Linked DNA regions of Homo sapiens: all the other regions are linked to region 2. The links come from fine-mapping of genetic effects on gene expression. A gene starts in region 2. Each other region holds a variant in brackets. All regions are shown on one strand. Distances are between the middles of the regions. Region 1 overlaps NPRL3 (NPR3 like, GATOR1 complex subunit). Region 2 holds the start of PIGQ (phosphatidylinositol glycan anchor biosynthesis class Q). Region 3 overlaps RAB40C (RAB40C, member RAS oncogene family).

Evidence for each region. PIP is the estimated chance that this variant, and not a neighbour inherited with it, causes the effect.
Region 1: its variant is fine-mapped to the expression of PIGQ in whole blood (TOPMed, PIP 0.93).
Region 3: its variant is fine-mapped to the expression of PIGQ in whole blood (TOPMed, PIP above 0.99).

The regions. Positions count from the first base shown.
Region 1 is chr16:88,370-96,542 of GRCh38, forward strand. It overlaps NPRL3 (NPR3 like, GATOR1 complex subunit), which reads right to left. Exons shown (of 14, transcript NM_001077350.3): 10 at 4,850-4,956; 11 at 4,227-4,356; 12 at 1,344-1,533; 13 at 329-521. Among named protein-coding and RNA genes, the nearest start is that of MPG, 14 kb to the left of the region's middle. The variant G/A (reference allele first, on the strand shown) is at 4,556.
Region 2 is chr16:565,303-573,475 of GRCh38, forward strand. It overlaps PIGQ (phosphatidylinositol glycan anchor biosynthesis class Q), which reads left to right and starts at 4,666. Exons shown (of 11, transcript NM_004204.5): 1 at 4,666-4,794. It overlaps PRR35 (proline rich 35), which reads left to right. Exons shown (of 3, transcript NM_145270.3): 3 at 1-227. The coding sequence ends at 5. NHLRC4 (NHL repeat containing 4) reads left to right here and starts at 1,703. Exons shown (of 2, transcript NM_001301159.2): 1 at 1,703-1,773; 2 at 2,169-4,193. The coding sequence starts at 2,746. The coding sequence ends at 3,117. RefSeq lists enhancers at 1-238, 1,134-2,029, 1,978-2,027, 5,613-6,507 and silencers at 4,533-4,692, 4,763-4,982.
Region 3 is chr16:592,340-600,512 of GRCh38, forward strand. All of the region lies in intron 1 of RAB40C (RAB40C, member RAS oncogene family), which reads left to right. Among named protein-coding and RNA genes, the nearest start is that of RAB40C, 6.4 kb to the left of the region's middle. RefSeq lists an enhancer at 7,242-7,743. The variant C/G (reference allele first, on the strand shown) is at 4,526.

The sequences.
Region 1 (8,173 bases), 480 kb before region 2:
AGAGCGAGACTCCGTCTCAAAAAAAAAAAAAAAAAAAAAGAACTTGGCACTGCCTCTCAAGGGAAAAGGAACATCTAAGAAGTACTGGAGAGAGAAGAGTCCGAAAAATAGGCATGCCAGGCCCATGGCCCGGCGTCTTGGTGACAAGCCGAACCCTCAGGCCTGGGCAGTGGCACCTGCCCCTACACACCTGAATGCAGAGACTCCATCTCGAACAGGGCCCCATCTGTTCTCAGTGGATTTGGTGGTTCTGTTGCGTACGTCCCTATCCACTTTCTGCCCTGACCCTGCAACTGGCCCCAGTCCCAACGGGTCAACCTACACCCACCTGGCAAACATGCGGAGGTCCTCAGGGTTCTGGGCTGCGGGTACACTGAGGATGGCTGCGCGTTCATGCTCCGACAGGCTGGCCAGCAGGTTCTCCGTCATCCTCTGGTTCAGTGGCGAGTCCCCGCTGGGAAGTAGCTCTGCGCTGGAGTTGTCCATGCTGGGGCTGGTGAGGGTCATGTCATCGCTGCTGGCTGTGGGGGACATGGGTCAGGGTGACCAAGTGGAATTCCAGGACACCCAGGGGAACAGCGAGGGCAGAGCCAGCAGCCAGCCTCCAATGACACCCCTAACTCCTACAAGGGTTAGGGTACATCTGCCTGCAAGCATTCGCTGCTGCCCCACCTCCTGGGTGTGACACGCCCCTCATACGGCTGACTTGGGAAACGGGTAGCCTCCCCTCTGGGGGCAACCTCAAGGGACCTGAACAGAGGTGCGATGTGTGCCCCACAAACACCCCAAGGTGGGCCTGGGCATCCTGTCCCTCACCCAGGATGGAGGACAAAGCACCCTGGGCAGGTGGGGTCCTCACATGAAGCATGAAGCCTACAGCCAGACCTCAGCCAAGGGGGGACTTTCAAAGTCTTCCACCCCCTTCCTTCCCCAAGCCTGGGGACCGGGGACCTGGGACCTGGCAACAGGCTGCTGCCCTCAAGCCACACTGGCCATGACGGCTCTTCTGGGGCGCAGAGGTGTCAGCTGTCCTGGTAGTGGTATGAGATCCTGCTCTGCTCCCAGGCTGGGGCAGAGATTCCAGCACTGATTTGCTGGGCTGGGAGCTGCCCCTAATTCTAGCAAGCCTGCTGAAGAGCCCGGAGACAGAGCTGCCACCTCAGAGTCACGGTGGTGCTAGGAGACAGGAGAGGTGTCTCCACGGGGGACACGAGGCACGTGCATGTGCGTGTGCAGCTGTGTGGAGGCCCCTCATCACTCACAGCACCACCCACGTTGAGCCTCCTGGATGCCACCCCCAAGCGTCTCCCCTGACTACCACAGCGGTGCCCTGGGGGTCCTACTTGGGGAGCCAAAGCTGAGGGCGTTGGGCGTGCTGAGGCTGCGACCGCCGACCCGGGCAGTGAAGGGGACGTCGTCCTCTCGCGGACGGGGCTCCTCCTCGCTGGGTGAGGCCATCAGGCAGACATAGGTGTGCAGCTGGATGAGAAGCCGGCGCTGCAGCATCCACACCACCATCTGGATGAGCTGGGTCTGCGGGTGGCAGCAGGTGAGGCTGGTCCCCCTCCCCACTCCAACTTCCTCCTGGGTGATCAGGGAGCCATGGCCCTAGACATGGCCACAGCACGCTCCCTGTGCTGACGCACAGGCAGAAAGGCCCTCTTCTCAGAAAGGGAGCCCCCAGCTGCCAGCCAGCTCTGCAAGGCCCGCTCACCCTCCTGGGAAGGGAGAGGGGCCAGGGGAACATCTGGATCACACCTGCACAGGCTCCCACCACACACCGGGGCCACCCAGCATCTGGCTGAGGAGCAGGACCTGAGACGTGGAGGCCCCTGTGACTGCTTCGCTGAGCAAACCCCCCACCCTGTGCTGCTGCAGCTGCCCCTCTGCCTCCTCTCTTCTTTGGCCCACTGGCCCTGGAGTTGGACCCAGCCAGCAAGTCCACCTCCACACAAGCCCAGACACTGTTTAAAAAGAGGCTGTGGGCAGGTACCCTGAGAGCAGAAAGTCCTCTCCTTGGATCTACCTGAAAGTCCACCCTGAGCACAAGAGTGGATCCACAAGAAAGCTGAGGCCAGTGACCCTGGGCTTGGGGGTGGAGCACCCCACCCCCACCCCCACCGTGAGAAGGCACGTCCTGGCCAGGCCCTCCAATGTCTCTGGGTTAGCAGGTGGGGCTGGCAGTGAGGAGCAGTGAGGAGCCTTGTGCCAGGTAGAGTCCAGTCCCCATGAGAAAGTACTGCCCAGACTCAGGCGTTGAACAGTAAGGAGTGTGAGACACATCAGTGTCCTCAGATACACATCTGTCTACTCATCTCTGGGAGGGTCAACAAGGAGCTGCTGGCCAGGGTCACCTCCTGGGAGGGGGCTGGGGAACTGGGGATGGGAATGGGGGATATATCCCAGGCAAGTAAGAAGACTTGGTCAAAAGGACTGCAAGATATCCAGACTTCACATGAATTTAAGAAATAAAACAGACGCGGGTGGATCACTTGAGCTCAGGAGTTCGAGACCAGCCTTGCCAACACAGTGAAACCTCATCTCTACTAAAGATACAAAAATTAGCCGGGTGTGGTGGCACACACCTGTAATCCCAGCTACTTGGGAGGCTGAGGCAGGAGAATCACTTGAACCTGGGAGGCGGAGGTTGCAGTGAGCCAAGATCACGCCACTGTACTTCAGCCTGGACAACAAAGCAAGTTTCTATATCAAAACAATAAAAAAAAAGCTGGGCGTAGTGGCTCATGCCTGTAATCCCAGCACTTTGAGAGGATGAGGTGGGTGGATCACCTGAGGTCAGGAGTTAGAGACCACCCTGGTCAACACGGTGAAACCCCGTCTCTACTAAAAATACAAAAAATTAGCCAGGCGTGGTGGCGGGCACCTGTAAACCCAGCTACTCGGGAGGGTGAGGCAGGAGATTGCTTGAACCCGGGAGGCAAAGGTTGCAGTGAGCCGAGATCATGCCATTGCACTCCAGCCTGACGTGCAATCAAAATTAAATAAAATCAATAAACCAAAAATAAAACAGAGGGGCTTCCCAGCACTGGAGCCCAGGCAGAACCTGGCTGACCTAGGCCCCTTGACAAGGCCTGGAGCAACCACTCAGTCATGGCCTGGAAAAGCCACTCCGTTATCTAGACCACAGGAGGCCTCTGAGAAGGGAGCACCAGCAGCTCCTCCCTAAGCACTGCCCCAAGAGCAGGGGTGCAGAGAGTGCCTTTTATTCAGCTGGTACAACCTGGCTCAGCTCCCAGAAACCAAGGGCTCTGTGAAAGACCGCACTGAGAGCTCTGTCAGGTTTAGCGTCTAACGGAGCTGAAAAGCCAGAATCGTTCTCATTCGTAATTTGAGAACGGAAAGGGTTTAACTTTAAGGACTGGTTTTGCCTAATAGATCTGGCACTTACTCAGATACTTCTGGAGACAAAGACTTGAGAACACCCAGCTCGTCTGTCTCCAACACCGTATCCTATCTGGCCCTGCTCTGAGTCTCTGCCCAGAACTCAGTGGAGGGGAGGATGGCAAAGCCACCTCAGCACAAGGCTATGACACCTGCAGCCCACAGGGGAAGCCACTGGCCCTGCCACAGATGCAGGTGCACCAGTTCATCCCACAGACCTGCAGGAGGCCTCCTATCCCCCAGCCACTCCTAGCTCCCAACCTGCCTGCCCGTTGCCCTGATCCAGGCCCACTAGGGTCCTCTCTAGGCTCTCTTGAATGAGGAGATTCTGGGGACCAGTGACCCCAGAACTCATACCCACAGACCCTGTGGCCACCTGAACCATGGCAGGGAGTGAAGACAGAAGCAGAACTCTCAGAGGGTCAGGCCTGGCCCAGTGAGAACAAAACTGCCTTTGCACCCTCATCTGTAGGCAGTCCCCAGTCCCAAAGGGGTACAAGGCAGGTCTGTAGGCCCAGAAAAGGTAAGCACTCTCCTGCTTAACTCGGTTCTAACACTAAAAACTGCCTGCCACAGCCAGGGTGGGCTCTATGGGGAGGGAACAACTGCTCAAGTGTTGGGTCACTGGCCAAGCATCTGCAGGTGGCCCGGCAGCTGACTTTTGGGTCCTGCTGGGCACGTAGCACTTGCACGGCAAGCCCCCAAAACCAAGGAGAAGCAGGTGGCAGTGCTGAGGGCTCTCAGATCAGAACCAACAGCCAGGCAGGTAGTGCCTATCCACTACACACCTGCCACTCTGGGCTCCTTGAGCTTCTGTGACTCACCTCCTGCACAGCGGGGGCCAGGGGATTCCTAAATTCTGACAAGGAGACCGGCAAGGAGAACTTGGCAAGAACGGACGGCAGGTCATGAGATGGGAACTGGTGGGAGAACTGCTCGGCCAGCGGGGAGTACCTGCAGGCAGGTGAGCATGCCAGTGAGTGCAGCAGACCCCCCCACCGTGTTCTCAACACTGGCCTCAGTGGGCAGCAGAGAAGCAAAGTGTGGCAGGTGGGTCAGGACAGTGCGATGAGGGCAGAACGGTATGAGGCCAGGCAGGCCTCCAGGTGGACAGAGCCTGGGCACTTCCCCTTGAGCAGCAGCAGGAGCCATG[G/A]GCACAGTTCATCCTGCATCTCACCTCTGATCCCTCAAGGTGGATTAGAAGAGCCAGCCTGGAGGAGGGGGCCAGGCATATGGGGGACACAGGAGAGCCACAGAGCACAGAGCCAGACCAGAATTGGGACCTGGGTATGCTAGTGGCCAGGAGTTAGGCTGAAGTGAGAGCCTGGCCTTGGGGCTTCCACAGCCTTTGGTGCCTGGCCAACACAGAGAACAGCATCTGGAGGGCCCTGCCAGCCTCACCCCTTCCCACTCGGGGCTCCAGGCTCTGGCAGCCAGCAGCACTCACAGACATACGCTGGCATTGGGAGACAGCATGTAGACGTTGTTCTCACACAGCGGGTAGATGATGATGGCCTTGCCCCAGTACACCAGATGAGCTGCAAGCTGGAAAACCTGCAGGCAAAAGGGAAGCTGCAAGGACCATGCCTGAGGCTGGCCCACCGGGAGCTGTCAGCAGCTCTCAGCCTGGGTGGCCATGGCCTACCAGCCTGGAGAAGCTGGCCCCAGCCTCATGCAGAACACACCTGGTGGCTATGGCCCGAGACTTCCTCCCTAACGTGGAATAGCACCTTCGCAACCTCTCACTAGGATGTGGGGCACAGCCAGCACACAGCACTTTCTGTGAGCAATGGTTTTTTTTTTTTTTTTTTTGGAGACAGTCTTGCTCTGTCGCCCAGGCTGGAGTGCAGTGGCACAATCTCAGCTCACTGCAACCTCTTGCCTCCCAGGTTCAAGCGATTCTCCTGCCTCAGCCTCCTGAGTAGCTGGGATTACAGGCACATGCCACCACGCCCAGCTAATTTTTGTATTTTTAGTAGAGACAGGGTTTCACCATGTTGGCCAGGATGGTCTCGATCTGACCTCGTGATCCACCCACCTTGGCCTTCCAAAGTGCTGGGATTACAGGCATGAGCCACCGCACCCGGCCACAATGGCCTTTTTGTCACTGCTCCCTGTGCTGTTTGGTGGCACTGTTTTCCCATCCTATGCTGTCTTGACTCCCACTGAAGAATGGTGGTCTCAGGCCACAAGCATGGGAATGTCTGGGGTGCTGGGAACACAGTGCTGGCCCAGCTGGGCAGGGGGCTTAGCTGGATGTCCTGGCAGGGGCACAGCCCTCTTATACCCCCTAAAACTCCAGCATGGCCTTGCCCGATGATGGGTGTGGAGTCACTCAGCATGCCACCCCTACATACCCAAAGGCCCCAGGTCTGCCCCATGTGCCCCGACTCCCACAGAGACCCCCCTCCCAGCTTTGCTCTTGTGGACCCTTGAACATCAGGAAACACAAACACAACCCAAACCCCTTCCAGAGGAAAGCTCAGGCCTGAGGTCTGAGAGCACAGCACCCCAGCACTTCACGAAAAGGTGTGTGAAATCCTAAGCTCTCGCACTTCTGCCTCTGCATCAGCCCAGGACACCACTCCACCCTCTTGGCGGGTAGGCCTCTGTGGAGGTGAGTCACCCCTGCCTGGACACCGTGCTGCCCTGCTGCTGAGGACACTTATACCTCAGCTCAGAAAACAGGGCCTCCAGACTGAGTGAGTGGCTCATGCCTGTAGTCCCAGCATTTTGGGAGGGCAAGGCAGGAGGATCGCCTGAACCTCGGAGTTCGAGACCAACCTGGGCAATATAGTGAGACCCTCATCTCTGCCAAAAATTTTTATTTAATTAGCCAGGCACTGCGGCACATGCCTGTAGTCCCAGCTACTTGGAGGCTGAGACAGGAGGATTGCTTGCACCTGGGAGGTGGGGGTTGCAGTGAGCCAAGATTGTGCGAGTAGTGCCCCCAATGGCTCCGCCAACCCCGACATGGCAGGTTTCAGCTCCATCACCGCCCTGTTCCCTCACCCCACGTGCCACTCGCATGTCTCTCTCAAAAAGACACCCCCACTTTCCCCCAGCTCTGCTCAGCATAGTGGTCTCCACCTCCTGCCTCTCCCTGCAGCAGCCTCTCCAAGATGCTGTCCATTCTGGAAATTGAAAATCCAAAATCAGTACTTAAGGGCAAGCATAAGGTGCCAGCAGGACCAGGCTCCCTCTGGAAGCTCCAGAAGAGAATTCGTCCTGCCTCTTCAACGGCCAGTGTCTCTTGGCTTGCGGTCACGTCACTCCACTCTGTCTCTGTGGCCACATCGCTGCCTCTTTTTATCAGATCTTCCTCTGCCTCCCTCTGATAAGGGCCTTAGAGATTACATTTAGAGCTCAACAGGATGATCTTCCCATCTCAAGATCTTCTACTTAGTAACATCTCCAAAGTCCCACATGAGTTCACATTCATAGATTTTGGGGATTAGGATGTGTATATCTGTGGGGGCCATTATTCAGCCAATCACAACGAATATACAGCACGATCCTAATTTTCATAATACAAAATAAAATGTTTGTGTGTGTATATATATATATATATATATATATACACACACACACACACACACACACACACACACACAATAAAATGTATATATACAGATAAAAAACCTGGAGGGATCTAGGTTACCTGTGGGATATGGGACTGTGGGAACTTTCTGTGTCTATAATTTGTGTAGTGTTTGAAGTCTTGTAACATACTAATTTTATCATGACACACCCAAAATTTACTTGTAGATTCTCTCTGGATTGATATAAACATGAAGAATTTTATTTTATTTTATTTTTTGAGACTGGGTCTTGCTCTGTTGCCCAGACTGCAGTGTGTAAAATCACAATTCACTGCAGCCTCGAACACCAGGGCTCAAGTGATCCTCCCACCTCAGCCTCCTGAGTAGCTGGGACCATGGGCACACACCACCATGCCCAGCTAATTATTTAATTTTCTGTAAAGACAGGGTCTTCCTATGTTGCCTAGGCTGGTCGTGACCTCCTGGGCTTAGGCAATCCTCCTGCCTCATCCTCCCAAAGTGCTGGGATTACAGGCATGAGCCACTGCACCCAGCCACATGAGGGACTTTAAACTATCTGGTGACATTCACACCTGAGGCAGGTGCTCCCCAGGGGGCTATCTCCGGAAACAGAGTGACCCACCAGGGCTGGGCCCCAGGGGCTTCCGCACCGCCACACCAGCAGCAACGCCCTGCTGACCTGCAGCAGGGACAGCAGGGAAGGGGTACAGACAGAAGAAAACAATGACAAACAGCCTTCCCTCTCCCCAGTCAAGGCCACGGCAGGGAAGTGAAGGGGACATCAAAAGGAGACCAAAGCTTTGTCCAAGGAGACTCTGAGAGCAAGGGTGAGAGGCACACTGTCCACACAAACTCCTGCCAGACAACCTCAGAAGAGGGCATCAAAGCTTTGTCCAAGGAGACTCTGACAGCAAGGATGAGAGGCACAGTGTCCAGCACAAACTCCTGCCAGACAGCCTCAGGAAAGCCAGGCCCAGCTCCTTTCAAAAGCTCAACACAGGACCAGTGAACAGCCACAGGCATTTACCATGTGGTCGGTGCTCATCAGGACACGGAGGGTCACTGCCTCCCTCACTCTGCAGGGTTGTATGGAGTGGTGAGTTCTTTTAAAATTCTCTGTCTCCTGAATGCTATGAAGGTGGGCAGGACATGGTGTTTACTGAGTCCTGTCCAGCCCATGAAGTCCAAAGGCACAGCTGGGCATGGTG
Region 2 (8,173 bases):
TCTGACCTGCAGCGCCTGAGGTCTGACTGTCTCTGCCTGCAGCATGCCGGCCCCTCTCCTGCAGCCCCTGCCCCTCACCTGCCTGGGACCTGCCCCGCCTCCGCATGCATGTGGATAGACCCCCACGGGCCGTGGCCAACGCTTGTCCCTGGGGCCACACAGGGACACTGGAGGTCACAGTTATTTATTGATCACAATTGTGGACATTAAAACAGAAACTGTTCACACACGCCGTCTGTGCCTCCTTCCTTTGGGGCCCTAGTGTAGCCACCTGGACACCCCCCTAAGGAAGTGTCCTGGCCTGGGAGGCCTGGGTGGGCAGCAGTCCTGCTGGGCCTCTGTCTTCAGACTCGGCCCTCTCCTGTGGGCTGGGCCCTCCCCGCGGGGCTGGGGTCTGGGGGTGGGGCGGGACATCGGCGACGGGAGCTGAGCCAGGAGAGCCGTGTGGACTGGGCTGCTCGGCCTGTGTCTTGGTGTGTCGGGGGTGGAGAGGCGTGTGGACTGGGCTGCTCGGCCTGTGTCTTGGTGTGTCGGGGGTGGGCACGGACCCCTGAACATCCTCTAGCCTCTGAATCCAGCAAGGCCGCGCTCATATCAGCTCTCCTGCGGTTAAACGGTGGCCCCGGGGCTCTGTGGCTGGAGGCTGCTCACCCAGCGTGGGCTCTGCTGGCCCCTGCCAGCCCCTGCAGCCGTGATAGGTATCAGCCTTCACAGCTCACTGCCTCCCTCCCAGCAGGGCCTGGCTTGGCCCTCCCACGGGCAGGGGATGGGCAGACAGGGAGGGGCACCCGGGACCCCCACAGCAAATCACTTCTCTCCTGGGAGAGCTGGCCACACCCTCCACGCCCACCCTGGAATGGGCTCTGGAGCCCACATCGCCCCCCCAGGAGGAGAAGCAGTTCCTGCCTGCGTCCAGCCGGGCTGGGGCCAGTCCAAGCAGGCTGGCAGCGGCCCCATTAACTACCAGGGAGATAGCATCAGCCCCGACCCTGCCTCGGGGCAGCTAGAGCTGGGGTGCTGCCTGGCCAGGCGCGGAGTGCTGTGGGGACAGGTCCCAGCCGGGCCCCTCTACCCAGAGGCTTCCTGGAGGGGCTGCAGGGGGCTCTGGGCAGCCAGGAACTGTTCCCAAGTCCCGAGTCTGAGGGAGACTCCCTGTCCTCAGCCCCCGCCCCCCATATGTCCACTGCACCCCATATGTCCACTGCACCTCAGTTTCTCACCCCCACTGAGCAGACAGGTGAGCATGGCCTTGCTGGGGGCAACAGCACCCGTCTCCCAGGTGTGGAGACACGACCTCCTTCGCTGTCACCCGTGGGGAGCAGGACAGGCCTCATGGAGGGTGCCTCAGCCAGCAGGTCACCCGCCTGTGGTCCAGACCCAAGGACCCTGCTTGGGGGTGGCAGCCTGGGGCTGCCTTGCCACTTGGAGTAATGAACTTGCTGGTTGTGGGGGGACCATGGGGGACCCCTGGAGGGGGGTGGGCTGCATGGCATCTGGCCGTGTAGGGGACGTGGGAATAGTGTCCGGGCAGAGGGCGCAGCCTGCAACAAGGCGCGGAGGCAGGAACACCACAGCATGGGGAGTCCTCAGGGGACCTGGTTTTTCTTTCATAGAAGCTTCAGGGGCCAAGGCCGGAGACTGCACTCTCCCTCCTCCACCCGGCCCAGCTGCGTCCCTGCCAGTGGCTCCTCCCACTTCCTCCAGTTCTAGTTTCCAACAACAGAGGCTGCAGCCACCCAGCCCCGAAGCAGGGCCCAGCGAGACAGGGCCCAGGTAAGAGACCCCTCCCCCCGGCCTCTCTCGGTGGGGCAGGTGGAGGCCCTCGGAATAGGCTGCCTCGCCCCTAAGGGGTCAGAAGTCTCCCTGACCTAGGGGCTCGGGTAGAAGGGCTGTGTGTGGGTGACCGCCCCCCCGCCGTAGAAAGGGGTTCCACAGGCAGATGGATTTGAGAAATGTTGCTTATCTGTCTGAGGCCCATGAGCTCATCTGGGGCTCAGGGGAAAACCCACAGCGAGCTCCACGGGTCATGTGTCTCCCAGACTCAAGTCCCAGGCACCTAGACACTAGGGTGGCCGCTGGGCTTGGTGGCCAGGTAGACCCTCAGGACCAGGAGGACCCGGCCTCATAGGAAGAAACTGGAGGAGTGACTTTGCCATTCCCACACACAGTGGGGCCTTATTCTCTCTCTTGCAGCCCCAAGCGTGACCCAGCTGCAGAGAAGCTGAGACGGTGATTCGGACTGACTGGACTCTGGCCTCCAGGTGTCTGCACCTCACACTGGACCCACCTGGAGACTCCACGGGCTCCCGGCAGCTCCGGCTGCTTGGGTGGATCCGGGTGCCCGCAGGGGCTGTGGGAGGGCCCCGGGGCCTGCACTGCTCCCCCGATGGCCTGCTCTTCCTCACGGCCGGGGCTGCACCCTGTGTCCACGTGCTAGATCTGGAGGGACGCCCCATCTGCCTCCTGCCCTGCCGCACTCCGGGGAGCGGGGCCTTCGTTCCAGAGGACGTGGCTGTGACAGCGTCAGGGCTTGTGGTGGTCAGCGATCCCATCCATGGGGCTGTCCATGCACTCCAGCACACAGCCCGGGACCCCGGGGGCCACTGGGTGACAGTGGGCACCTTCCTGTCTCCCCGAGGGCTGGCTGTGGATGCCCTCAACCGCCTCCTGGTGACGGACTACTTGCCTGGGGCTGTGCACAGCTTCTCGTTGGGTCCTGCTTGGGAGCCCCTGGCCCCAGCCTCCATGCTGGGTCTGGAGGGCCCCTGCTGGGTGGGCCCAGGGCCTGATGGGGGCCTTGCTGTGAGTGAGGAGTTTGGGGATGTGAGGCTGTTTGGCAGTGCCCGCCAACCCCTGGGCTCCCTGGGGGGCTGGACGGGGCACACTTTCGGCTGCCCAGCGGGCATCTGCTCCAACTCAGAGGGCAATGTTATTGTGGCAGACGAGCAGAGGCGCCAGGTGACCCTGTTTCCCCGGGCTGGGCCACCCATCTGCCTGGTGTCAGAGGGGCTTGGGCAGCCCTTGGGAGTGGCCTGTGCACCCCAGGGCCAGCTCCTGGTGGCTGATGCCAAGGACAACTCCATCAAGGTGTACCAGGGCCTCAAGGAGCTGGCCTGACCTGAGGCTGGGTTGGAGCAGCCCTCCTGTGCCTGAGGCCAGCTCCCAGGCCCTTGGATCACCGCGGGAGGAACCCTCAGGATGGGTGGAGCCTCCAGGCTATGGGCATTGCCTGCCTGATGCCAGCACCACCTGGGCTGGGCCCTGGGCTTGGCTCGAGTTCTCCTGCTGGTGAGGCTCCGGATCTCAGGAGCAGCCCTGAGTCTGCTTCCCAGGCTGCCCCTGCCAGGCCTGCAGCCTCCCCAGCCAGGGCTGCTCTCTGCTGTCCCCATTCAGTGCCCTGGCCCCTGCATTCATGCCCCCCACACCCCCTCAGGCCCTGTGCCTGGACTTTGGGGCTGGCAGCTGAAGCCTTGAGATCCTGGGCCAGCTGCCGGCACACAGCTAGGCAGACTCTCCCACCAGGTGCCCCTGCCCAGGCCTCCTAATCGGGGGCAGACAGGCAGGGAGGGTGTGGCTGGGCTGGGCTGGGCGGGGCGGCCTGGGGCAGGGGTGTGGCCCCTAAATGTCCCCAACCTCAGAGGGACCTAGAGTCCTGAGCCTCCAGTAGCTTCTCTGGGCCTGGCAGAGGTAAGGGGGAGGCAACCCTGGAGTGTCTGGAGGCCCATGGCTGGCTGAACCCTGGATGCCTTTTCTTCCGCGTCCCCATGAATGAAAGCTGTCTGGGCCTTCATTCTGCAGACAGGGACAAACAGCTCCATGCTGTTTGTCCTCCCAGTGCAGCCGTGCTGGGAGGGTCTGGGGGAGCTTCCTACAAGGAGAGACTCCTGCTGCTTTGGAAAACTGAGAAAAAATAGGGGTCTAACCCTCTCCTCCCATTTTACAAGTGGGGAAATGAGGCGTGAAAGGAGAGGCGTCTGGGTTACTCCGTGGGTCTGGGGTCCAGGGAAGGGCCTGTATGGGGGAGGGAGCTGGGAGGGGACGGTGTCTGGCTCTACCCCTGTGGGGTGGGGAGGTGGGGCTCCCCTGTATCACAGGACATCCCCCCTGAGAGGTCCCTCATATGTCTGGGTCCTGTGGGTGGGGGACTAACTGCGCAATGTAGTTAGGTGCTCAATAAACGGAGTTGCCGCTGAGGTCTGGGCTGGGGTCTTGTTCCTGGGATCGGGAGGGGCTGGACGCCTGTGTGTTCTCTCCTGACGATCGCTGGCGGCAGCCTCTGGGCTGGTCCTACCAGGGCTCAAAATTCCCGGCACCACTGGCCTTGGGGATCTGGGGGCGGCCCCTCTGCAGACAACAGAGTGACGGGGGCGGGACCGGGCTGGGGCTGGGGCCTTCCTGGAATCCCGCAGGGCCTGGGGACCTGTTCACTTGGGGAGGCTGGGAGCCAGGCGGGGTCCGGGTTCCACGAAGGCCAGGTCCAGTCAGTTTCTCAGGTGAGGAAACCGAGCTGACGCGGGGCTGGCGGCCCGGAGGCAGGCTCGGGAGGTCCGGGCCTGGGGACTGGGCGGGCACGCTGCGCCGCGGAACGCTCGGGTCGGGCGGGCGGGCGGGCAGCCCGGGCGCCTTTGGGGGCCGGACCGTCGCGCGGCAACGCGCGGAGCCGGCGGAAGTGGGGCTCGGGTCCCGCGGCGGGGCTGGAGGCAGCGAGCGCCGTCGTCTGCCCGGGCCCGCCCATCGGGGTCCCCAACCCCATCCGGACCCCGCCGCCCGAGCGCGCGGCCCCGGAAGCACCCGGTGAGCAGGGGGGGTGGGCGGCGCGCGGCGGGACCTCGGGCAGCGCCCCTGCGGCTCCGGGCCTGGGCTGGGGGCTCCGCACTCCCGCCCGCGGCGCCGCTGCTTTCTCCTCCCAGAAGTGGGGCCGCCCCCGGGCCCGCGCCGACCTGGGCCCCTGTGGACCCTGTGCAAGGGCGGTCGGCGGCCCGGGCCTGGCTGTGGGCCCTTCGCAGTTGTCCCGGTTTGCAGGAAAGGGCAAAAAACGGAATCGTAGGCTCTTCCCAAATGAGAGGGGAAGGCCCTGCTTGAGGAAGGCAAGCAAGTTTGTTTGTTTGTTTGTTTTGAGACGGGGTCTCACCATGTTGCCCAGGCTGAACTCGTGTTTGTTTTTCATTATTTATTTATTTTGAGAGGGAGTCTCGCTCTGTCGCCCAGGCTGGAGTGCAATGGCGCGATCTCGGGTCACTGCAACCGCTGCCTCCCGGGTTCCAGCGATTCTCCTGCCTCAGCCTCCCCAGTAGCTGGGATTACAGGTGCCCACCACCACGCCCGGCTAATTTCTGTATTTTTAGTAGAGACTTGGTTTCACCCCCATCGAGGCTGGTCTTAAGCTCCTGACCTCAAGTGATCCGCCCGCCTCGGCCTCCCAAAGTGCTGGGATTACAGGCGTGAGCCACCGCGCCAGGTTGGTGTTTATTTTTCAAACAAGGCGCTGGGAAACGCAAATTCTCCAGAGCTCTTGTGGAGCGGTGGCAGGGAGGGGCGGCTCAGCCAGAGATGGCCCTGGCCCGTCCTAACTGGGCTGGGGTGCCCCCATTCCCTCATTCACGGGGAGGAGAGGGAAGTCTTAGTCTTACTACTTTATATGGTCGACCTCCCTACCTGCCTGGTCTGGGAATGGCTTCTCAAGAGCACTCGGGCTCATTCTTAGCAGAGGAAGCTCTTCTGGCTAGCCTGGCGCCCGTGTGTGTGTGTGTGTGTGTGTGTGTGTGTGTGTGTGTGTGTGTGTGTGTGTGTGTGTGTGTGTGTGTGTCTGGCTAGCCTGGTGCCCGTGTGTGTGTGTGTGTGTCTGGCTAGCCTGGCACCCGTGGCTAGCCTGGCGCCCGTGTGTGTGTGTGTGTGTGTCTGGCTAGCCTGTGTGTGTCTGGTTAGCCTGTGTGTGTGTGTGTGTGTCTGGCTAGCCTGTGTGTGTGTGTGTGGCTAGCCTGGCGCCCGTGTGTGTGTGTGTGTCTGGCTAGCCTGGCAACCATGGCTAGCCTGGTGCCCGTGTGTGTGTGTGTGTCTGGCTAGCCTGGGACCCGTGGCTAGCCTGGTGCCCGTGTGTGTGTGTCTGGCTAGCCTGTGTGTGTCTGGTTAGCCTGTGTGTGTGTGTGTGTGTTTGTGTCTGGCTAGCCTGTGTGTGTCTGGTTAGCCTGTGTGTGTGTGTGTGTGTGTGTGTGTGTGTGTCTGGCTAGCCTGGCGCCTGTGTGTGTGTGTGTCTGGCTAGCCTGGTGCCCGTGTGTGTGTGTGTGTGTGTGTGTGGCTAGCCTGGCGCCCGTGTGTGTGTGTGTGTGTGTGTGTTTCCTCAGTCTTTAAAGATGCTCACGTTGCTTTCTCCCGTCCCATACCTCCTCTGCTATCGATCGCTTCTCTTTCATCTTCCTCTGGCTGTGTGATCCCAGCAGCTGCTAGTGCAGGCTTCTTTGTGCCGCCGACCGTCCCAGAGGCTGAGGTGGGAGTGTGATGGGCGTTTGCCCCACAGTACGTTGAGTTTTCTCTCACTACTCGACAGAGAAGAGTAGCTTCTGCCCTCCCATCTCCTTCGGTAGACACAAGGCACTTTTTTTTTTTAAGGTAAACTTTGTAGATGAAGCACAAAGAATACACACAAAGAAAGCGCACAGATCGTGAGCACGTAGCTCGGTGAATTTACCCAAAGTGAGCCCACCGCAGAACCAGCTCCCCCTAGAACATCTGTTTACTGTTAGACCCATTGTGTTTCTTTTCCGACGATATCTGTGGGCAGTTTTCCTTAGTCCCTGTGAAAGCTCTTCCCCAGCAGGGCGTGATGGGTCCCTGGGCTGAGCTGGTGTGAAAGGTGGGCTGTACTGGGTGGTCCCCTATGGTGGTCACACAGCCAGACACGCTGGGCCCCTTGCAGGCAGAATCACTTTGTCCCTCTCACGATGTCCTTGGTGCCTCACGTCAGCTGGCCTCCAGGCATCCACCCGCCGCCTGCCCTCTCTGACCACTGAGGAAATGGGCATTTGAGGAGTTCTGCAGCCTGACCCAGAAGGTCCCTTTTCAGCTAGAACCCACCGCCTTGAGTGACTGGATCCTCCAGCCCCAGTGCGGGCTGCCTGCAGGGGAGGAGAGCAGCTGCACCAGGGGCCTCTTAAGCCCCAGGCATTTCCGTGTGAGGCCTCTTCCAGAGCCCCTCCAAGCTTCGGGAGAGGACTTACAGGTCACACCACCCCGACGTGTGCATCCTGCTCTGTTCCCTCGTCCCTAAGGATGTGGTGGGCTCTGAGACCTCCAGGCATCCTGGTCTGTTCCCTCATCCCTAAGGGCGTGGTGGGCTCTGAGACCTCCAGGCATCCCACTCTGTTCCCTCGTCCCTAAGGGCGTGGTGGGCACTGGGACCTCCAGGCGTCCCGCTCTGTTCCCTCGTCCCTAAGGATGTGGTGGGCACTGGGACCTCCAGGCGTCCCGCTCTGTTCCCTCGTCCCTAAGGATGTGGTGGGCACTGCGACCTCCAGGCGTCCCGCTCTGTTCCCTCGTCCCTAAGGGCGTGGTGGGCGCTGGGACCTCCAGACCCAGGCTCAGGCCAAGCTATGTCCCTCCCTCGAGTGTGGCTCCAGCGTGGGGGGTCTCTGCTCAGGGTGGCCGCTCCACTCTTCGTGCAGGCGAGATGGGGCTTTCTGTGTCTGAGGAAGGCGAGCGGCCCAGCCAGCCGGCCAGTAGTGCCCCCACCGCTAGGGAGTCCTCCTGCCCTGTGGGGCCCCGCCAGGGAAGGCATCAGTGGAGAAGGAGCCCCAGCTGGCTGCATGGCTCCGCAGGGGCCTGTGAGAAAGGGGGAGGAGAGGCCCAGGGCCTGGGAACCGCGGTAGCTCAGGTGGCTTCCTACTCAACAGCCACCTTGGAAGGCTGGTGTCCCTCAGCCTGAGAGTGCAGGATGCAGTTTCTCCACACCTCCGGGACCTGTAAGCCTCTCTCTCCCCGTTTCTAGGCACCCATGTCGTTGGAGAAATATATCCTGGAGAGAAAATGCTCCCTGAGGGAGCCCTGCCCTGGGGTGGCTGTGGGGATGTCAGGGAGGGCCAGGCACTGCCGGGTGCCACCGTGGGCGGGGGTCAGAGTGGAGGCCGAAGCCCTGTGTGCCCTGAGCAACGAGGCAGGTCCTTCCTGCCCCCAGGGAGGG
Region 3 (8,173 bases), 27 kb after region 2:
GAGCGCGCTTCCTCCTGGCATGGCTTCAGCAGTGGGCAGCAGCACCGGGGGCTCTGGAAGCTTGTGCTCCTGGCTTCAGCCTGGAGGAGGGGTTGGAAAGGGCCAGGGAGGAAGAGCTCTGTGTCCATTTTGAGGTGGGGGAAGTGTAAGGCCCACTGGGGCATTGGGGGCTCACACGTTAGGCCCCTGCACCTGCCGCCTCCTGGTCCTGCACTTGACAGTGACTGCCCCAGAATTGGTAACTCCTGACTCAGGTGGTGGGCGGCCAAGTTGATTGTGAAGGTGGCGTTGCCTTCTAAAGCTTGGCTCCAGGGGCGCTGCGCACTCCCAGGAGGCTGGCGGCGTGCGTGTTTGTGCATGTTCAGAAGAGCACGGGAAGGATTGGGTTTCATCAATCGGTGTTTTCCCAGGACATGAAGGCGTGCTTCTGAGGGCCGGCTCAGCCATGCTGGCCAGCTCGCCTACCCAACTGCACCACACAGCCAGGAGCTGGAGAGACAGGACCCTCCTTCCTCCCTGTCCCCTTCGTCGGGCTGTGGGGCATTGCCACACTTCCTCTGACATGCTCACTGAAGTGGGGCCAGTATTGTGTAAGACGTGGAGACCTGCCTGCTTGCAGAGACTTCAGAGGCTCACAGTGGCTTGGACCAGAGGCAGAGAGGAGAGTCCACTCTTAGAAAGACACCACGTGCTCTCAGGGCCCGGGGCACACTTCCAGGTCCCCGCAGGAGTCCTGTGGCCTCGAGCAGAGAAGGAAGCGCCTCTGGGCTGTGGAACGCGCTTTCTGTGTCTAAGGTCTCAAGGTTAAGACGTGCACAGCACAAGGAGCAGGTCTTTGTGGTCAGGTGGCAGCTTGCCAACCTCAGGGGCCAGCCCTCTTCATCAGGGTGAAGTTGGTGGATCTGAGGGTTTCCCAAGGGGGCTATTCAGGGTCTCAGAAGCTCAGGAGCAGCTGGTTCTCAGGACTCAGCATCTTGAGAATTTATTCTCCTTTGAAAGAGTTGTAGCAGGAGCTTTAGGCCTCTGGCCCTCGTGGGAAGGACGTACGTGTTAACCTCCATTGCTTTCTCTCCTTTGTTGGGAGGTGCCCTCTGTGTTTCCAGCTTCCGTGTTTCTTCAGGGCTGCCTGCTGGGCAGTGGGTGCCCTTGGCAGGGAGGCCCCTTCTGTGCAAGGCTTACTGCTTCAGCATGGCCCACAGCTCCTTCAGCTCACACCGGATCGCTTACCTGCCTGGAAGTCTTGTCTGGCATGTTCCTCAGACAGGTGTGTGAGCGTACATTGCCCTCTCCAGCTTCACAAACAAATGAGTCATCGAAGTGACCTTTTTCTTAGTACTGGCACCTGAGGCAGTGGCGTGTGACCACACGCCCAGCACCTGTGGGAGCCCCTGTGAGCTCTTCCGTGTCTCCTAATGTGGGTGTGCGCTGGGTTTCTGGATCTCTAGGTCTGGAAAGGCTTTCCTTTCTTTGACACCCAGCAGTGATCTTAGGGAGTGCTTCATGCTCTCTTCAGGATGGAACAGAGCGCTTTGCATAGAGTGCCCCTGGGTGATGGTGGCGAGTTACCCGGCAGGAATTATGCTTCATCCAGGAGTGTGGGTGGTGCACGCGGCGGGGAGGAGAAAGCTGCAGTTCAGGAGCGAACCTGCAGTCAGGCTCCAGGGTGTGGGCCAGGGTGGTGGGCCCGTGTTGGCCCCCAGGAACCACCCGCACAGGGTGCACACCCTTCCCCAAGCCCAGCCGCTCCCGCTCTGCAGGGGGCATCGAAGGTCCTGGATTAAGGCAGTTCCACCCTCGGCACCGTGTCCCCACAAACCTTCCTGGGAGCAAGTTTTCCTCCCGCCACGTTGGTCAGGGTGTGTGTGCCCGGGTCCTGGAAGACTTCAGAAGGGGTTAATCCTGGCTTGACTTTATTTCTCTCTCTGCTCTTTTGGGGTTCAGTGTTGGTGGAAGCTGCTGAGTGACACTCCGGTCCTTTGAGCCTGGCAAGTTGTGGGGAGAAACGGAGGGAGGCGGTTGTGGACATGGCGAGGCTAACATCACGGTTTGCTGTGGATGTTGGGGCCTGGTGGTCACTGAGATGTCTGTGGGGCCACACGCTGCCTGCTGTACCCATGGGAGCGAGGGCACCCTGTGTGGGTGTCCCAGCTTCTTCGGCTTCACGACTCCCTGAGCTTTCTCCAAACAGTTACAAACGTTTCTTCTCATCTGGCTTGAAGTTCGTGGCTCCGAAGTGGCCAATTCCAGGGGACACTATCTTGAGAGGCTCCTCCGTGTTTCATTGTCCTGATGTGTCGTCGGCTGCTTATCCCCAGGGCTAGCTGAGGGTTTCGTGGGAGGTTCTAGCTGTGTGTCTTTAGGTGACTGGACAGCCGTGCGTGGCTTCCCTGTGCCTACTGTTGGTGTTGGGCACCACTGACCACTGCAGCCCAGAGTCCCTTCTCCTCCCCTGCACTTGATTAGGTTTTGCTCGTCTTCCTTTTTTTTTTTTTTTTTTTTAGACGAAGTCTTACTCTCTTGCGCAGGCTGGAGTGCAGTGGCGCGATCTCGGCTCACTGCAACCTCTGCCTTCTGGGTTCAAGTGATTCTCCTGTCTCAGCCTCCTGAGTAGCTGGGATTACAGACGCCTGCCACCATGCGTGGCTAATTTTTGTATTTTTAGTAGAGGCAGGTTTCACCATGTTGGCTAGGCTGGTCTCAAACCCCTGACCTCAAGTGATCCACCTGCCTCGGGGGTTTTGCTCGTTTTCTGGGGCAGTGTTTTGGGGTTTGCCTTTCCTCTGTGAGGTGCCGGGTTTTCCAGCAGGGTGGTGTTGTGGGAGGAACGGGGTGTTCACCATGGCAACAGCTAATGCTGCCAGCGTGTGATGAGTGTTGCCTGCCAGCACCGGTGGGCGCTTTCCGCTGCCCCCGTGTAGCCCCCACCACCACCTGTGAGAAGGCAGCACCACCCCCACTGTGCAGACGAGGGATTGAGGCTCAGGAGGCGGCAGCTGTAGGGGTGGGCTTGGGGTCCGGGAGGAGCCGCCCTGCAGGCCTCCTGTGAAGCAGCGGGCTTCATGGCTCTTCCCCTGTCCTCCTCACGTCCACCTGGGCCTGGGGACGGCTGCCACACACCTGCTTCTGCTGCACCGCGCACACTAAGTTCTCCTGAGACCCAAGCCTCAGAGGACCGCCTCAGGCCCGGGATGACCCTGGCTGGCATCTGAGAACCCATGTGGTCAGGAGGTAGGACTTCTGTGGGTCATTATAACTTTTTTCTTCTTTTTTTTTTTTTTTTTGAGACGGAGTCTAACTCTGTTGCCCAGGCCGGAGTGCAGTGGCACGGTCTCGGCTCACTGCAAGCTCCACCTCCCGGGTTCAAGTGATTCTACTGCCTCAGCCTCCCGAGTAGCTGGGATTACAGCCACCTGCCACCACACCCAGCTAATTTTTGTATTTGTAGTAGAGATGGGGTTTCACTGTGTTGGCCAGGCTGGTCTTGAACTGCTGACCTTGTGATCCACCCTCCTCGGCCTCCCAAAGTGCTGGGATTACAAGGGTGAGCCACTGTGCCTGGCCTCTAATTGTGCTGTTTTATAAGTTGGACTGGCATGGCCTTACTTAAATTTTCAGGAAACTGTTGAGTCAGTAGGTAGAATATTGAATGTTAAGTTTGTCCAGAGGCCAGATGCCAGAACTTTTGGACAAGTGAGTTAATGTCCACCTCCAGTCCTTAGCACTTGCTCTAAGCGCTCACAGGCAACAGGGCAAATGCTTGCATGGCAGGTGCACGGCAGTGCCAGCCAGGTCTCTCGCAGGGTGGTGTGGACACAGATGACTCGTGTCGAGCACACGTGTTGTGGCCTGCACGATGAGCTAAATTGAACAGTGTTTCAGGAAGGAAGCCACATCGGGGAGCTGAGAGGTGGGCGGGAAGGACACAAGGGAGGGATCTGGGTCCTCGCAGGTACTTTTGCCTCTTGTTCTATTTGAAGATTGCAGCTGAGAAGGCGCGAAGCTGCTGGTCCCTGAAAAGCTGCCGCCTACCCTGGTCTGGAGCCCCTGCGAGCTGGCGTAGAGCAGGAAGGGGTTGCATCACAGCTGAGTCCTCCCCTGCGCAGCACATGGTACGATGCCACCCCACCGAGGGCCGTTCTGGGGCCCAGGGGCCACGTCAGCCAGGGTGTCATCCGCCGGGCGTTTGGAGTAAGCAGGGAAAGGTGTCGGCGTCCAGCATCCTGGTGCGGAGAACGCTGCCGAACCACTGTGAGAAGGCGGGGAGACTGCTTGTCAGGCTGAGCTGACTTCCTGGGCGGTCGGGAGAAGGATGTGCAGACTGTGGAACTGGCGGGTGTCAGGGACCAGAAGTTACGAAGGCGGTGGGAAGAGGAGCAGCTGTGGGAAGAAGGACTGGCTGCCAAGACCATGGGCTGTGGGCATCCTCAGGGCAGGAGCTGGGTGGAAGAGGGGCCTCTTCAGTCCTCTTGGCAGTGAAGGTAAACAGATGTCAGCAGGGTGGACTCGCACTTTGAGCCTAAGGTAG[C/G]GAGGAGGCTTCTGAGCCGACCTGGGGATGGCGGCGCACTCTGATACAGGCAGTGCGCGGCTGTCTCGTGCTGAGATCAGGATTTTGAGTAAAGCAGAGATTTCTGGACGTTTGTCCTTCAGAAATTAGCGGAGGGACAAGGGCATTGGCGCTGTGGAGAGGTAGGGACCCATGGGTATGGGGCGGAAGACCAGGGCACGACCAGACACCGCCAGGGTGCTGCACATGTAGGTAGCAGGGGGAGGTGGTCCAGGCAAGATGGGATGGGAGGGGCTCAGGAGCAGCCAGGTTCTAGTGCTGGTGATGAGGTGGGTGGTGGCAGGGGCATGTGGAAGGGTCTTCTGACCATGGCTTACAGAGGGCTTGGTGCTGGGGGGCCTGGAGTTGTGGAAAGGGTGAAGGGAAGAGTTGGTCCCATATTCCCAGATGGCAGAGTGGAAACAGAAGCACTCGGCCCCTGAGCAGCCTTCGCCGTCTTTACAGTGAACACAGTCCTCAAACCAAACTGGGAAGGATTCGAATCCTGGATGGGTGATGTGGTCCTGGCTGTGTAAACTGACCCTGATGAAAGACATGCCCATCCTGTGAGAGGGACAGCCATCTAGCATCTTTTTTTTTTTTTTAATTTTTATTTTTTGAGACAGAGTCTTGCTCCGTTACCCAGGGTGTAGTTCGATGGCACTATCTTGGCTCGCTGCAACCTCTTGAGCCTCATGGGTTCAAGCGATTCTCCTGCCTTGGCCTCCTGAGTAGCTGGGATTACAGGCATGCACCACCACACCTGGCTAATTTTTTACATTTTTAGTAGAGACAGAGGTTTTGCTGTGTTGGCCAGGCTGGTCTTGAACTTCTGACTTCAAGCAATCCGCCCGCCTCAGCTTCCCAAAGTTGGTGGAATTACAGGCATGAGCCACTGTGCCCAGCCCAGCTCAGCATCTTTGGAAAAGAGCAGAGGGCTGGGCACGGTGGCTCACACCTGCAATCTCAGCACCTTGGGAGGCCGAGGTAGGCGGAGTGCTGGAGCCCAGGAGTTTGAGGCCAGCCTGGGCAACACAGTGAGACCCCATCTCTACAAAAAAAAAAAAAAAAAAAAAAAAAAAGGCCGGGTGCAGTGGCTCACACCTGTAATTCCAGCACTTTGGGAGGCCAAGGTGGGTGAATCACGAGGTCAAGAGATTGAGACCATCCTGGCCAACATGATGAAACCCCGTCTCTACTAAAAATACAAAAATTGGCCAGGCATGGTGGCTCACGCTTGTAATCCCAGCACTTTGGGAGGCCAAGGCAGGTGGATCACGAGGTCAGGAGATCAAGACCATCCTGGCTAACATGGTGAAACCCTGTCTCTATAAAAATACAAAAAATTAGCTGGGCATGGTGGCGGGCACCTGTAGTCCCAGCTACTTGGGAGGCTGAGGTACGAGAATGGCGTGAATCCAGGAGGCAGAGCTTGCAGTGAGCCGAGATCACGCCACTGACTCCAGCCTGGGTGACAGAGCGAGACTCCACCTCAAAAAAAAAAAAAAATACAAATACAAATACAAAAATTAGCCGGGCGTGGTGGCGCATACCTGTAGCCCCAACTACTTGGGAGGCTGAGGCAGGAGAATTGCTTGAACCTGGGTGGCGGAGGTTGCAGAGAGCTGAGATTGTGCCACTGCACTCCAGCTTGGTGACAGAGCGAGACTCTGTCTCACAAAAAAAAAAAAAAAAAAAGAAAAAAGAAAATTAGCTGGGTGTGGTGGTGCACGTCTGTAGTCCCAATTACTTGGGAGGCTGAGGTGGGAAACTCACTGGAGCCTGGGAGGTGGTGGCTGCAGTGAGTCTGACTGTTGCACTACGTTCCAGCCTGGGTGACAGAGTGAGACCCTGTCTCAAAAAATAAAAAATAAAGAAAAGAGGATGGAAGAAGAGAAGAGCTGAGTCCTGGAAATGGGCAGGTACTTTACAGTTTGTACAGCGGCCGGATGTAAGAACCTCATGTCAACCCTGAGTGAAGGTGTAGGCCGGGCGGTCAAGCACAGCACTCTCCAGCAGCTCCAGCAGCGTGGGTAACCCGGTGGGAGCCTGTGTGCTGCTTTCCCTGCCCGGGGCCGGCGGCTGCTGCTGGGCTTTCGCCTGACTTCCTGGTCAGCAACGTTGTCGGCCACCTGGGCACAGCAGGTACAGCCTGTGTGTCAGACCTAGCTGGGAGGGGCGGTAATAGGGTAGATGACATCAGGATTCAGGACTCTGAACACAAACACAGTGACACTGATCAGGGTTGCCGAGGTGCTGTGTTTCGGTCCAGAAAGTCACTGCTGCAGGGGAGGGGAGTATGGTCACAGCCCAGGCCCCGGCCCCGGCCGAAGCTGCCACTGACAGGAGACCCTTCTCTGCCTGTGCCACCAGCTTTGCTCCGAGGGGTGTCTGTGTCCTCAGGCTCTGCCAAGGCAGTGTCAGGCTGATGCCTGCCCGTGTCGGCCGGCCACAGCCCTAGTGGCTGCCCGCAGAGTCTTGCGCCCACCTGATTCCTGCCTGAGAGGAGCCGCCAGGTCAGCTGATGCCAGCAGGACCCACTTCACCAGGTCAGCAAGGAGGAGGCAGCTTCCCTTGGGGCCACGCCGTGCCTCCTCCGTGTGCGCTGCTGCCATGGCTGCTTCTGTCGATAGGCATGTACGTGAAAATGCACACCCGTGGGTGTTCGCTACTGTCAGCGTGGATTCAGCAAGGTTTTGTTCCCTCGTGGCATCAGTCAGCGTGGATTCAGCAAGGTTTTGTTACCTCGTGGCATTAATCAGCGTGGATTCAGCAAGGTTTTGTTCCCTTGTGGCATCAGTCAGCGTGGATTCGCAAGGTTTTGTTCCCTCGTGGCATCAGTCAGCGTGGATTCGCAAGGTTTTGTTCCCTCGTGGCATCAGTCAGCGTGGATTCGCAAGGTTTTGTTCCCTCGTGGCATCAGTCAGCGTGGATTCGCAAGGTTTTGTTCCCTCGTGGCATCAGTCAGCGTGGATTCGCAAGGTTTTGTTCCCTCGTGGCATCAGTCAGCGTGGATTCGCAAGGTTTTGTTCCCTCGTGGCATCAGTCAGCGTGGATTCGCAAGGTTTTGTTCCCTCGTGGCATCAGTCAGCGTGGATTCGCAAGGTTTTGTTCCCTCGTGGCATCAGTCAGCGTGGATTCGCAAGGTTTTGTTCCCTCGTGGCATCAGTCAGCGTGGATTTGCAAAGTTTTGTTCCCTTGTGGCATCATACTCCTTTCCTGTTTGGTTTGGGACTCCCATGGCCCCCTTGATGTTGGAGCCTCTTCAGGTGGCACCTGCGTCCTGGGCTATGCCCTGAGTTCCCGGAGCTCCCTGTGTCCTGGAACAGTCTGTACTTCCAGCAGATGTGGGTCCTGCCTGCCCTGGAAACGGCCATCTCTCTGAAGAGCCTGTGTCCTCCTGGTGGGGAGGGATAGCTAGTATGTCAGCTTCTTAAATTACTTTATTAAAAATTGAGTATATGCAAAATAGTAGTCATAATAATAGTAATAGTAGCAAGTGCAAAGTGTAAGTAATAGAAATGGATGTCACCTAACCTGCCGAGTTTAAAACATTGTTGTTGGACTTTTTTAAAGAGCTTTGGTGCCGGATGGGCACGGTGGCTCACGCCTGTGATCCCAGCACTTTGG